Regions from separate parts of the Homo sapiens genome. Here region 2 is linked to region 1. A link means that fine-mapping ties the variant in region 1 to the expression of a gene that starts in the linked region. Tissue or cell type: whole blood. Region 1 holds a variant in brackets; the other region holds the start of a gene. All regions are shown on one strand. Distances are from middle to middle.

The links. PIP is the estimated chance that this variant, and not a neighbour inherited with it, causes the effect.
Region 2: MHENCR starts here. The variant in region 1 is fine-mapped to the expression of MHENCR in whole blood (INTERVAL, PIP 0.93).

Annotation. Positions count from the first base shown.
Region 1 is chr20:63,594,109-63,601,964 of GRCh38, forward strand. GMEB2 (glucocorticoid modulatory element binding protein 2) reads right to left here. Exons shown (of 10, transcript NM_012384.5): 5 at 3,649-3,752; 6 at 1,502-1,659. Among named protein-coding and RNA genes, the nearest start is that of HELZ2, 24 kb to the left of the region's middle. RefSeq lists an enhancer at 3,698-3,867. The variant T/C (reference allele first, on the strand shown) is at 3,203.
Region 2 is chr20:63,623,465-63,629,915 of GRCh38, forward strand. It overlaps MHENCR (melanoma highly expressed competing endogenous lncRNA for miR-425 and miR-489), which reads left to right and starts at 3,771. Exons shown (of 2, transcript NR_132417.1): 1 at 3,771-3,928; 2 at 4,726-5,360. It overlaps GMEB2 (glucocorticoid modulatory element binding protein 2), which reads right to left and starts at 3,637. Exons shown (of 10, transcript NM_012384.5): 1 at 3,492-3,637. RefSeq lists silencers at 2,999-3,538, 3,629-4,078.

The DNA of each region.
Region 1 (7,856 bases):
ATGACTCATATTACACATCTGGAATTATTTGGGGCGTGAATGAGTCGTTTTTCCGAGTTGGGGCTGGCACAGCATCTTTTACTAACTGCACAGTAGCCAAGTCAATGGTTCTCAGAGATTGCAGGTTAAAGAACCCAAATCATCTTCAGAAGAGCTGAGCCTCAGCCTAGCTGTGAGGCACTGACTACAGGGCGTGGAAGGCCCAGTTCCTTCCCTGGCAGGCGGTCAGGCAGGGCCAACACTAACGCGGTGGAGCCGCTGGGGAGGCCCTGGGGAGGACAGACAGGAGGCTGGGCTCTACCCAGCCCCTCTGACCACAGCAGCCCAAGTGTCCTGGGCTTCTCAGGACTCAGCACTGAACCTGCCAGGCTGCCCCAGCAGGACGTGGAAGGGGGCCCAGGAGAAGGGTGAGGCCTCCCTAGTGCCCTGGCCTCACTCTCCTACCCAGCGGGACAGGACAGGACTCAACTGGGTCCCACCTGGGCCAACAACAAGGACGTCCCTGGGCACACAGGAACACAATCTGGCCAGCAATGCGGAGTGGCAGCTTAGGGACAATGCATGTGGCATTGCTGGAAACACATCACCAAAGACCACCCAGAGATGTGACCAGGGAGCCCAGGACCTAACTTCACTTTAACTTCAGTTTTTTTGTTTTGAGATGGAATCTCACACTGTCGCCCAGGCTGGAGGGCAGTGGAGCGATCTCAGCTCACTGCAACCTCCGCCTCCTGGGTTCAAGCGATTCTCCTGCCTCAGCCTCCTGAGTAGCTGGGACTACAGGCATGCACCACCACACCCGGCTAACTTCTGTACTTTTAATAGAGACAGGGTTTCATCCTGTTGGCCAGGCTGGCCTCAAGTGATCCACCCGCCTCGGCTTCCCAAAGTGCTGGGGTTACAGGTGTGAGCCACCACACCCAGCCTAACTGTAGTTTTAAGAAAAATTTCTCTATTCATAAAGCTGGAAAGAATTCTAGGGAACAACCTCTCCACAGTTTAGAGCTACAGACACCAACGTGGAACAGTATCTAAAGCGTCACCCAAAAACCCAAGTGGCAGGAATACCTGCAGCAAGGCACCCAGCACGGAAGGCGGGAGCACAGGCGCGCAGTTCCGTAAACCGCCAGGTCAGGAGGGAAGCGGGTCCAGATTTGGGGCTGGGCCGTGGGGGTGGGAGGGAGGGGGCCGGGTGGGCGCCCAGGCACTCTCTGTTACTCGCTATACCCTTCCCCACACGTGAGTTATTATATTACAACCAAAATGGCTTAAAAAGAAAAGTGCTTCAATCTTCCTTGTCAATGAAAGCAGCAATTCTGCCAGATCTCCTCTGTGAGGCAGGAGGAGGCTGATCCCAGACAACTCAGGGTCCCAGGCAGGAGACCGGCAGTCCTGGCGTGAGCAAACGCCTGGGGCCAAGGAGGCCACCCAGGGGCATGTCACCCTCTGTGGCCATGGCCAGGGTGGGGCTGGGTCAGGACGAGCAGCCCTGTGCACCTACCGTCGGCTGCGGCGGGCGTGAGGGGAATGTACTCGGCCGACGTGGGGCTGCTCAGGGACACACGGGCTCCTGAGAGGTCAATCTTTGTGCTGCGGCAGGTGTTGGAGCAGACCTTGTCATGCTGGTAGAAGTCCAGTTCCCCGGAGTCCATGATCTTCCTGTGACAGACAGTGGCATGGAGCGTCCAGGTCGGCCCCAGAGCCGAAGGCACCTGGCCCGCCCACCCTGACCTGGGCCATCCACCTGCGTGGGGCAGGCCTAGCAGAGGCGCTGGCAGCTCCACAGGGCAGGGTGGGCTCTACTTCCCTCTTAGCGCGAGCTCGGCGTGCAGGACCCTGCTGCTGAAGAAGCAGCCGGCCCAGGCCCACGCTACGGCACTGTCCCCAGGAAGGGGGCAAGCGCTGGCCAGTGGGTGTCCTGGAGGTGCCCGTCAGAGTCTGTGGGGCTGGGCCTTTCTGGGATGTCCCACTACCCCAGCCCCAAGGGAGTGACCCACAGCTAACAAAGGTGGGCCCAGTCCACCTGCATCATGCGTGACTCATTCTGAAGCAGAGGAAGGTGGGAAATCACTTCCAGGAGAACCTTCCTCCTTCTAAAGGCACAGAGACAGCCAAGAAGAGTGATGAGGGCGCAGGACAGCACCAACGGCCATGGCTGCCGCTCATCCTCATCTTTACCAGGAAGGCTTCGTACGGCCCAAACTGCTGAGAGCCGCCCTCCCAGGGCCCTCTCTTCTGCCTCTCCGGAGGTCCAGGGTCTCAGTCCTGTGTGTCTCAACGAGCCTGCCTCGACCCATGAAACGAGGGTCAGAGGCTCCAGCCTCATTCAATCTTTGGGCAGCACTGACCTCAGGCACACACAGGCTAATGCTTCTGTGGTCAGCTCAGGACTTGCCTACCTGGCCGGTGGTCCCCACAGCTGTGCCACCAGCCACGTTCCAGAAAATCAGAGGCCAGTTCAGCTGGACAGGGAAAGGACCTGAGCCATGGGAAAGGACCCAGGGCTAGTCACTCGTGAGGTCTCAAACTCTGACTCCAGCACAAAGCAGGGGCCCTCCTTGGGAAGCAAGGTAGAGGCCAGGCCCACAAAGACTGAGACTGAGGCTTATGATTCACAGATAAGTGAAGGCCGGGCACGGTGGCTCATGCCTGGAATCCCAGCACTTTGGGAGGCTGAGGCAGGTCAATCACCTGAGGTCAAGTGTTCGAGACCAGCCTGGACAATATGGCAAAATCCCGTCTCTACTAAAAATACAAAAATTAGCCGGGTGTGCTGGCGAGCACCTGTAAACCCAGCTACTGGGGAGGGTGAGGAAGAGAATCGCTTGAACCCAGGAGGCAGAGTTCGCAGTGAGCCAAGATCATGCCACTGCACTCCAGCCTGGGCAACAGAGCAAGACTCCCTCTCAAAAAAAAAGTGAAAGAAAGGACAGAAATAAGGAGTAACATAAAAGGCCAAAATCTGATGCACAAATACCAGATTATACCTTTCTTTTATTTTTTATTTTCAGAATGCATAATTGGAACAGACCCTTTTCTTTTCCTTTTTATTCTTGTTTTTTTTTTTTTTTGAGACAGAGTCTCACTCTGTAACCCAAGCTGTATTGCAGTGGCACAATCACAGCTCACTGCAGCCTTGACTTCCAGGCTCCAGTGATCCTTCCACCTTAGCCTCTCGAGCAGCTGGGACCACAGGCATATG[T/C]CACCAAATCCAGATAATTTTTTTTTTATTTTTAGTAGAGATGAGGTCTCATTATTGTGCCCAGGCTGGTCTCAAACTCTTGGCGTCAAGTGATCCTCCTGCCTCAGCCTCCTAAAGTGTTGGGATTGCAGGTGTGAGCCATGTGCCCAGCCAACCCTTTATTTTACAACGCTGAAACAGTCACAAGTGCCTTCAGGTAAAGAATTGGTGGAAATTAAAATGACTGACAAAACAATTCTAAAAATCTGATAGTGTCCCTGTTGGCAGGAGTGTGGGAGACGGGTTTACAGTTTTGGGTGTGAGCAGGTGCAGCAGCCACCCGGGAGGTTGTCAGCACTCACCACATCTAAAATACGCCTCATCTTCAAAATCCCAAAACCCCACAAGAAAGCAAGAGCTGCCAGGGCCCCTTCCAGCAGGGAGGCTGACCCTGCGCCAGCGCCCACCTGAGCATGATGCCGTTCATGCGGATGGCTCTCTTCCAGTCCTTCAGGGTGGACTTCCCGGCCAGGTGCACAAATTCCTTTGGGCTGATTACATGCTCGTCGTACTGTGGGGGACACAGTCATGTGGGTCAAGCTTGGCCGGGACACCACATAGGGTGCCCCCATCTCCCATCCGACCCTGAGTCAGGCGCGCAAGGCAGGAAAAGCGCCACGGCACGGCTCTGACCGGTGCAGGCCTCCTACAGAGCATTCAGGTAAAACAAGGACATGACCCACAGGCACGGTGGCTGCAGTGGGGAGTGGTGTCTCCTCCAGCCCTGAGGGGGCAGAGCTGCTGTGTGCCTGGGGCTAGACAGGGCTGGGCTGACCACACCAGGTAGAAGGTGTGTGGCCTTCTCTTCCTCCAGGCAGACTAAGCAAACTGCTTCTGTGCAATGTATTTTATAAATACACGTTATTGCATACGTTACATCGCAGATGGCAACAGATGCCAGCACATGGGTGGAGCTGTGAACGCCACCTTCCTCAGGTCCCTCCTGACACCACCTTGCCCCGTGCAGCAAACACCGGCACCTGCTCTCACTCTGACACACACACACACACACACACACACACACTCATCTGTTTCTAAGCCAGGGGAACCCTCCTGCTTGCTAATTTCACCCATGTGGGAGCTCAGAGAAACTGAGAAGGTAAAATATCCTGTTCAATCTTGTTACACAAGCAATTATTGAAACCAAAAACTGGAATAAAACTGCATTTACTTAGAAAACAAGCAGGCTGGGGATGGAGGAGTCACGAGGTCTCTGCAGCTGGACCCAGGAGGCCCGAGTACGGGGGCCGCCTCCACCCCCGGGCCGTGCCCAAGTCTAGCTTGCTGAAGGAAGTGATGTTCCCAATCCCTGAGCCCACCCTCTCATGACCCCTGTGCCACAGACGGGAACACTAAGCCCAGCCAGTCTCTGGCTCTCCCTCATGCGGCTGATCAGGGAGATCCCATAGAAGTCCAGAAGGTGGAATCCAGAAGATTCTCTGGCCACTGTCGGAGCCTGGCAGGAAGGCTGCACTGGCTGTGACTGAGGCTGCTTCCGGCCATCACTTCTACCCAACGTGGCTCACACCTAGGAAACTCAACTGCACCCAAAGGGCCTGATCCTACCTAGGGCTCTGGGCTCAGCCAGCCTCACCTCCCTGCCCCTCCTAGGCCTGCCTCTTTCCTTTCTTGCTTTCACCTTTGTTACTCTTCTCACCCCAGGTTTTCCTCTCCCAGCTAGGAAGCTACATGCTGTACTCTCATGAGTGGCTCCAGGAGCTTCAGCATGTCACGCTTACCAGAGCTGCCAGAGCCCAGAGCTAACGCGGCCACTCCTGACCCCCCAGAGCTAACGCAGCCGCTCCTGACCCTCCAGCGCTAACGCGGCCCGCTCCTGACCCCCCGGAGCTAACGTGGCCGCTCCTGACCCCCCGGAGCTAACTCGGCCCGCTCCTGACCCTCCAGACCACAGCCACGTGGCCCTGCTCTCATCTCTGAGGCCCTCCAGGGCGTCTCTCTCGATGCTGAATAGACAGGACTGGTCGGGTGACCCACGTTTCCCCGACTCTTCACACCTCCTCACAGCACAGCGCTTCCATCTGGAGGCCTCCTATCTCCGCCTGCAATGCATATTTAGAACATCCTTCCATCATGATCTGCTGGTGGCAAACTCGTGTCTTTTTCTGGAAACGTCTTTCTTCCAGCATAATTTCAAAGACGACCTCACGGTGTCGTCACTCGCCACACAGTGAGGCTCTGGCGCTGCCACCTCTGCTCCTGCGCTGCTTTCGGGAGCTCACGGCCGGCGGGATTCTTGCTACTGAGCGATCCGTCTCTCCTCCTGGCTAGACTGAGGATCTTCTCTGTCCCCGTCCTTCTGGAATTTCATTATGATGTCACCTATGGTACATTTCTTTCGTGTTTCCAACTTCTAATTCTAATACAATTTCAAACTCACAGGGTAATTGCCAGGATAGTCCAGGGAGCTCTCACACGTGCGTTCCGGACTCACTGCCTGCTCCCGTCTGCCCCCTTGCCCCCGCCTAGACCTGTGCACGTGCAGCTACTGAGAGTGAAGCAGAGACGTCGGGCCCCTGGGCCCTCAACACTTGTGTATATTTCCTAAGAACAAGCTTCTCTTACGCAGCCACAGAACAACTCGCATCAGGAAATTATCATTCATACATTATTCTCTAATCCATTGTCCATAGTCAAATTCATGAATTGTTCCAATGATAGCCTTTATTGCAAAAAAAAAATTTTTTTTTTTGAGATGGAGTCTCACTCTGTCGTCCAGGCTGGAGTGCACTGGTGCAATCTTGGGCTCACTGCAACCTCCGCCTCCCGGGTTCAAGAGATTCTCTTGCCTCAGCCTCCCGAGTAGCTGGGAGTACAGGCACATGCCACCATGCCTGGCCAATTTTTTTGTATTTGTCGCAGAGATGGGGTTTCACCATGTTGGCTGCGCTGGTCTCGAACTCCTGACCTCAGGTGATTCACCCGCCTCGGCCTCCCAAAGTGCTGGGATTACAGGCGTGAGTCACCATGCCCAGCCTACATTTTTTTCTGATGCAGGATCCAGCCCAAGACTGTGGAGCATGCAGCTGCCTTGCTCTTCGGCTTTTGTCCCCATTAAGACTGCAGCAGGCCGGGCGCGGTGGCTCACGCCTGTAATCCCAGCACTTTGGGAGGCCAAGGCGGGCAGGTCACCTGAGGTCAGGAGTTCGGGCTCAGCCTGGCCAACATGGCAAAACCCCATCTCTACTAAAAATACAAAAATCAGCCAGGCATGGTGGTGGGTGCCCGTAGTCCCAGCTACTCAGGAGGCTGAGGCAAGAGAATCACTTGAACCCAGGAAGCGGAGGTTGCGGTGAGCCAAGATCGCGCCATTGCACTCCAGTCTGGGCAACAGAGGAAGACTCCATCTCAAAAAAAAAAAAAAAAAAAAAAGACGGAGCAGCTTCTCAGCCTGTCTGTGTTTTTCTTCACCTTGACGTTTTTGGAGCTTGTGGGTCAGGTATTAACGTAGGCTGTCTCTCCATGAGTGTCTGCTGTTTTCTCATGAGTAGAGTCAGGCTATGAACTGTTGGAAGAACACCACAGACCTGCTCACTGCATCAGGAGGCTCAAAGGGGAGGTCTGTCCCGAGCCTGATGATGTGAAGATGGATCGCTGGGTTAAGGAGGCACCTGCCAGCTTTCCCACCACAGCTACGACTTACGTCTGCAATGGCTGCATGGTTTACAGGGATGCTCTGAAACTAGTCTGAGCACCCGCTCATGACTCTGACCCCATCATTCCTCCCATGCTTTACTTCTCTCTATGCATTTATTTAACATAAATAAATAACATGAAATATATGGAGATAGGTATATAGACTCATAGATTTTATTTTACTCGAGTGATGACCCATGACTATCACTATTTATTTGGATGCTAAAAGCCACCCTACATGCAGGCAGTGGGGTCTTCATCCAGGCTGGGGTCAGTCAGGGCCCTTGCACTGTGGACCACTCTTTCTCAGTTATGAAAGTTCTCAGACTCTCTCTCCTCCTTCCAGAACTCAAATAGATGTGTTTGACTCTCGTGCTTCCTGAATAAATTGCTTTATTTCTATTTACAAGTCCTACTTCTCTCTTCAGCTATGGCTAATCTGCTGAAGACCTATCCACTAAGTGTTGAACTTCAATCCTATCTCTAGTCGTGTTTCTGCAGAATCTACTTATGCTTTACTCATGCTCTCTTTTCTTTTTTTTTTTTTTAAGAAGAAACTGGGGTCTCAGTATGTTACCCAGGCTGCTCTTGAACTCCTGGGCTCAAGCAATCCTCCTGCCTCGGCCTCCCAAAGTGTCAGGATTGCAGGTGTTAAGCCATGGCACCCGGCCTCTTTTATTTCTTAAAATAAATTATTAAATATAACGATTTTATCTTCTAAGCCTTAAAACCCCAACAGCCGAGGCTGCTGCAGGGCCGACTCTGCAGCCTGTGGCTTCTGTGGGGCCTGTGGCTTCTGTGGGGCCTGTGGCTTCTGTGCTGCCTGTGGCTTCCGTGGGGCCTGTGGCTTCCGTGGGGCCTGTGGCTTCCGTGCTGCCTGTGGCTTCCGTGGGGCCTGTGGCTTCCGTGGGGCCTGTGGCTTCTGTGCTGCCTGTGGCTTCTGTGGGGCCTGTGGCTTCTG
Region 2 (6,451 bases), 29 kb after region 1:
TTAGGCTTCAAAATAAAGAACTTTAAACAAACATGAATAAAAAGCCACTTTAGGCCGGGCGCGGTGGCTCACACTTGTAATCCCAGCACTTTGGGAGGCCGCGGCGGGTGGATCATAAGGTCAGAAGTTCAAAGACCAGCCTGATCAATACGGTGAAACCCCGTCTCTACTAAAAATACAAAAATTAGCCGGGCGCGGTGGCAGGTGCCTGTAATCTCAGCTACTTGGGAGGCTGAGGCAGGAGAATCGCTTGAACCTGGGCAGCAGAGGTTGCAGTGAGCCAAGATCATGCCACTGCACTCAAGCCTGGGTGACAGAGTGAGACTCTCTCTTAAAAAAAAAAAGCCACTTTAAAATTTTACTCAGGCCAGGTGTGGTGGCTCACGCCCATAATCCTAGCACTTTGGGAGGCCGAGGCGAGCAGATCACCTGAGGTCAGGAGTTAGACCAGCCTGGCCAACATGGTAAAACCTTGTCTCTACTGAAAACACAAAAATTAGCTGGGCGTGGTGGTGTGCCCATGTAATCCCAGCTACTCAGGAGGCTGAAGTGAGAGAACTGCTTGAACCCGGGAGGCAGAGGCTGCAGTGTGCCAAGACTGCACCACTACACTTCAGCCTGGGCGACAGAGCAAGACCCTGTCTCAGAAAAAAAAAAAATTCAAAAATTTGGCCAGGCGTGGTGGCTCACGCCTGTAATCCCATCACTTTGGAAGGCCGAGGCGGGTGGATCACCTGAGGTCAGGAATTCAAGACCAGCCTGGCCACCATGATGAAACCCTGTCTCTACTAAAAATACAAAAAAAAAAAAACAAATTGGCCGGGCATGGTGGCGGGTGCCTGTAATCCCACCTACTTGGGAGGCTGAGGCAGGAGAATCTCTCGAACTCCGGAGGCAGAGGTTGCAGCGAGCCAAGATTGTGCCACTGCACTCCAGCCTAGACAACAGAGCGAGACTCTGTCTCAAAAAAAAAAAAATTAAAATTAAAAAATAAAAATTTCATTTAAAATACTACTGATCTCCCGTGCTGACTTCTCGGGGTTTAACTCTCACTGAGGAGACGCTGCTTTCATAAGGGTAAGCTCAGCAGGGGCAACTAAAGTCATTTAAGCAGAGAGCTGCAAAGAGGCAACAGCCTCACTGCAGGCAGGGGTCCTCGTCACAGCTTCAGGGCTTTGCAGAGGATTACGCAATGTACACGCACAAAACTGAATTCCAGCCTCTCCATTGGCAACTGCATACATACATATATTCTTTTTTTGAGACGGAGTCTCGCTCTGTAGCCCAGGTTGGACTGCAGTGGCCCGATCTCGGCTCAATGCAAGCTCTGCCTCCCGGGTTCAAGCGATTCTCTTGCCTCAGCCTCCTGAGTAGCTGGGATTACAGGCGCCCACCACCACGCCCGGCTAATTTTTGTATTTTTAGTAGAGACGGGGTTTCACCATGTTGGCCAGGACAGTCTCGATCTCCTGACCTCGTGATCCGCCCGCCTCTGCCTCCCAAAGTGCTGGGATTACAGGCGTGAGCCACTGAGCCTGGCCTCCAATGGCAACTATATTAAAGGTTCAAAGCAATATGCACAAAAGTTACCTCACAGAAAATAGTGCAAGTCCTTGATACAATGCTCTTTAGACACAGAAGAAGCACTATAGAATAGAGCACCTCGCCCTATTGCCTTCCCAAGGGCGAGCACCCCCTCCTCTCTCCACAGCTCCTTCTTTGTTTTTTTGAGATGGAGTCTCGCTCTGTCACCCAGGCTGGAGTGCAATGGCAAAATCTTGGCTCACTGCAACCTCCGCCTCCCGGGTTGAAGTGATTCTCCTGCCTCAGCCTCCCGAGTAGCTGGGACTACAGGCACCCAACACGCCTAGCTAATTTTTGCATTTTTGGTAGAGACGGGGTTTCATCATGTTGGCCAGGCTGGTCTCGAACTCCTGACCTCCAGTGATCCTCCCACCTTGACCTCCCATAGTGCTGGGATTATAGGTGTGAGCCACTACACCTGGCCTCTCCACAGCCCCTTCTGTGTTGAAGCCAAGACCCACCCAGCTTTGATCCCAAGGCTTGGGTTCCCCACTAGTGTGAAGTGAGTTTCCAAATTATTAGGTAAATCAGATATGAGAAAATATTTTATTTTACTTTTTTTTTTTTGAGACGCAATCTTGCTCCGTCACCCAGGCTGGAGTGCAATGGCACCATCTCCACTCACTGCAACCTCTGCCTTCTGGGTTCAAGCAATTCTCCTGCCTCAGCCTCCCAACTAGCTGGGATTACAAGTGCACACCACCACGCCCGGCTAACTTTTGTATTTTTAGTAGAGACAGGGTTTCACCGTGTTAGCCAGGCTGCTCTCAAACTCCTGACCTCATGATCCGCCCACGTCGGGCTCCCAAAGTGGTGGGATTACAGGTGTGAGCCATCACACCTGGCCCAAGAAAATATTTTTAAACTAGTATTCTTGACCGGCACGGTCAACACTGATGTAATTGAAACTGTTGTATTTGAAGTGTTAGCAAAGAAAGAGAATTCTGGTTCAACAGAAAAGTCAGTCACGACTTTTCAGTCACGCATGAATTACACAGTAACCAAATAGATAACATGCCATGACTGACGACGGGCCCACAACAAATCAGCTCCGACCAACAGGGTCCACACCACCATGGGTCTACACAGATCCAGGTCCCGCCTGTGAGCCTACAGTGACGCGGGCCCCTGTGGGGTGGTCCCTGCAGGTCAGGTCCCTGAGAGTGGGTCCCAGTGGGGTGATCCCTGCGGGTCGCGTCCCTGCGAGTTGGGTGCCTGCCGGGTGGCCCCTGCGGGTCGGGTGCCTGCGGGGTGGTCCCTATGGGTCGCGTCCCTGCGGGTCGGGTGCCTGCGGGGTGGCCCCTGGGAATCGCGTCCCTGCGGGTCGGGTGCCTGCGGGGTGGCCCCTGGGGATCGCGTCCCTGCGGGTCGGGTGCCTGCGGGGTGGCCCCTGGGGATCGCGTCCCTGCGGGTCGGGTGCCTGCGGGGTGGTCCTTGTGGGTCGCGTCCCTGTGGGGTGGTCCCTGTGGGTCGCGTCCCTGTGGGGTGGCCCCTGCGGGTCGCGTGGTGGCCCCTGCGGGTCGGGTGCCTGCGGGGTGGTCCCTGTGGGTCGCGTCCCTGCGGGTCGGGTGCCTGCGGGGTGGTCCCTGCGGGTCGCACCCCTGCGGCGTGGTCCCCCCGGGATGGGTCCACCGAGGAGGCCGCTGGAGGCCGAGCCCGCGCCCGCCCGCGGCGCCAAGATGGAGGCAGGAAGCGCCGCCGCCCGCGCCCGCCACCGCCCGCGCCGCCCGCCTGACGCCGCCGTTGCGCCTGACGCCGCCGCCCGCGCGGCCGCCCCTCCCCCGGCCCTCCCCTCCCCCCGCCGTAACGTCCTGACGCTCCGCAGGGACCCCTGACTGGACGGCGGCGCGTGAGCGGAGCGAGAGGCCTCGCCGCGGGGGGGCCGCGGGCTCGCCGGCGCCGCTTACCTGGGGCCGCGCCGGGCCTGCTTAGGCACCCGGCGGGGGCGGCGGCGTCGGGAGCTGCGGCGGCGGCGGGCGGCGGCGGCGGCCGCGGGCTTCGCTCCTTGTTGGGGATTCGGCGGCGGCGGCGGCGCGGGCGCGCGCTTCCTAGTGACGCAGGCGGCGGGGCCGCGCACGCACGGGGCTGGGAGGGCCGGACACTTATTTGGCGCTCGCGGAGGAGGAAGGCGGGGCCGTGAAATAAGGCCCGACGGGCCCCGGGGCGCGTGCGCGGACCGACACTGTCAGCTCCTAACGCCGCAGGTTCCTCCTGGTCCCCGAGGCCCCCGGTCGGGCGTTGCCTGCCCCGCGCGGGCGGCCGGGCCGAGGGACGATGGTCAGTGGACGGACGGCGCCAGGGAGCAGTGCCCACGCGCGGCAGGGCGGTACCTTCAGGCCTCCAGGTACGGGCGCTCCTCGCCCGGACGCTGCTGTGTGTGAATGGGCGCGAGGGGACTCCCCTGCGGGGCGGACGCCTGAACACGAGGCTGTGGAGGAGGACGCTGTAGGGTGCGCGGACTCACGCGGAACATGCCAGAGGCTCAGCCAGCCACGGCGCTCCCAGCGTGGAGGGCGAGGGGCATCCGGGAGCGGCCGGGAGGGCTCGGTCACCCCTCAAGCTGTCACCCCAGTCCCACAACCAGCACCCCGATCCTATCGCAGTCCCACAGCCGACACCCCGATCCCACCCCTGCCCAACAGCCGGCACCCACCCCAATCCCATAGCTAACACCCCGGTCCCACCGCTGTCCCACGGCCGGCACCCCGATCCCACCCCAGTCCCGCAGCTGGCACCCCGATCCCACCCCAGCCCAACAGCTGGCACCCACCCCGATCCCACCGCTGTCCCACAGCCGGCACCCCGATCCCACCCCAGTCCCGCAGCCGGCACCCCGATCCCACAGCCGGCACTCACCCCGATCGCATAGCATAGCTGATACCCCGATCCCACCCCAGTCCCATAGCCAGCACCCCGATCCCACCCCAGTCCCATAGCCAGCACCTCGATCCCATAGATGACACCCCGATCCCGCCCCAGTCCTATAGCCCGCACCCCGATCCCACCCGAGTCCCGCAGCCGGCACCCCATCCCACCCATGTCCCACAGTCGGCACCCCGATCCCACTCGGATCCGGCAGCCAGCTTGGATCCTGTGGCCCTCCTCCAGCCCCCAGGGCTCATTTATATGTTTTATTGGCAGAGGCTGGGGCTGGCTCTGTTGGCCTCTGTGCTGGGTTTCTTCCTCTGCACCGCAGGACTGGCTCTCCTGACCTCTCCAGGTGTCATCGAACACCCTTGTGCTTGCTGTCACCCGCTGCCTGTCTGCAGGATCCCGGATTCCGTATCAGGGGACCGAAATTAGTCGGAAAATAGGAAGCAGGTGCTCGCTTGGATGGAACCCTGACCCTGTGCTCACACTTGTAGGAGGAGGGCTCTGCAGGCCGCCTCCCGGAACGGGAGGTTCCCAAGCCACTGCACTTCGGAGGGGCTGTAATTAGAGTTGCACATTCATTCAGTTCCCAGTAAAGTAGAACGTGCTCCAGCCAGTGAGGAAAAGGTGTTTTTAAAAATTAGATTGGCCGAGTGCGGTGGCTCATGCCTTTTACCTCAACACTTTGGGAGACAAAGGTGGGAGGATCACCTGTGGCCAGGAGTTCAAGACCAGCCTGGGCAACAGAGCCTGTCTCTGGGGAAGAATAAAAAAAAAAATTGAGCCTTTGTCAGTGCTACTATTTTATTATCTGGTAAATATGAGAGGGTTCACGCGGTCTATGTGTGTCATTTATCTGAGTTTGCCTATCGTCACGTTTTGGAAATAAATGTCAATAAAGTCGAAGAGGAGTGCTGAGGGGGGCCTGGGGATGGGAGGGTGGCTACATCATGCCTGTGTGTTGCGCAAGCCCACCGAGGTCGGCCTGGGGTGAGCCCTGGGGCCTGTTCTGCCTCCTTCACTCTGGGGCTCCAAGAGACAAACTGGGCAACAAGAGAGAAACTCCATCTAAAAAAAAAGAAAAATCACCTCCAAGATAACTTAGCTTTCTTCTGCTGGCATAACAAATTATCTCAAACTTAGTCGCTTAAAAATGCAAATTTAGGCTGAGTGCGGAGGCTCACGCCCATAATCCTAGCACTTTGGGAGGCCAAGGCAGGATTGCTTGAGGCCAGGAGTTCGAGACCAACATGGCCAGAACTGTCTCTTTTTAAAAAATGCAAATGTGTCCGGCACGGTGGCTCACGCCTATAATCCCAGCACTTTGTGAGGCCAAGGCGGGCAGATCACGAGGTCAGGAGATAGAGACCATCCTGGCTAACACTGTGAAACCCCCTCTCTACTAAAAATACAAAAAATTAGCCTGGCGTGGTGGCAGGCGCCTGTAGTCCCAGCTACTCGGGAGGCTGAGGCAGGAGAATGGCGTGAACCCAGGAAGCGGAGCTTGCAGTGAGCCGAGATGGCGCCACTGCACTCCAGCCTAGGCAACAGAGCAAGACTCCGTCTCAAAAAATAAATAAATAAAACTGCAAATGTATTCTCTAACTGTTCTGTAGGTCGGAAGTCCAGCCCAGCCTCACTCCGCCAAAATCAGGGTGTCTGCAGGGCCGATTGCTTTTGGAGCTCCAGGGGAGAAGCTGTTCTGGCCTTTCCAGTTTCTGGAAGCACTTGAGCCCCTTGTCTCGTGGCCTATCCCACACCTGAAAGCCAGCCAAAGCCAGTTGAGTCCTCACCCTGTTGGCCCCGACACTGATCTCCTGCCTCCCTCATCTGCTGTCAAGGCCCCTTGTGATGACATGGGGCCACCAGCTGGCCCAGGGCACCTCCTGTCAGAGTCCGCCGACCAGTGACCTTCATTCCATCTGTCGCTGTAATTCCCCTTTGCTTGGAACCAACGTTCACAGATCCCAGGGGTTAGGATGTGAATATCTTGGGC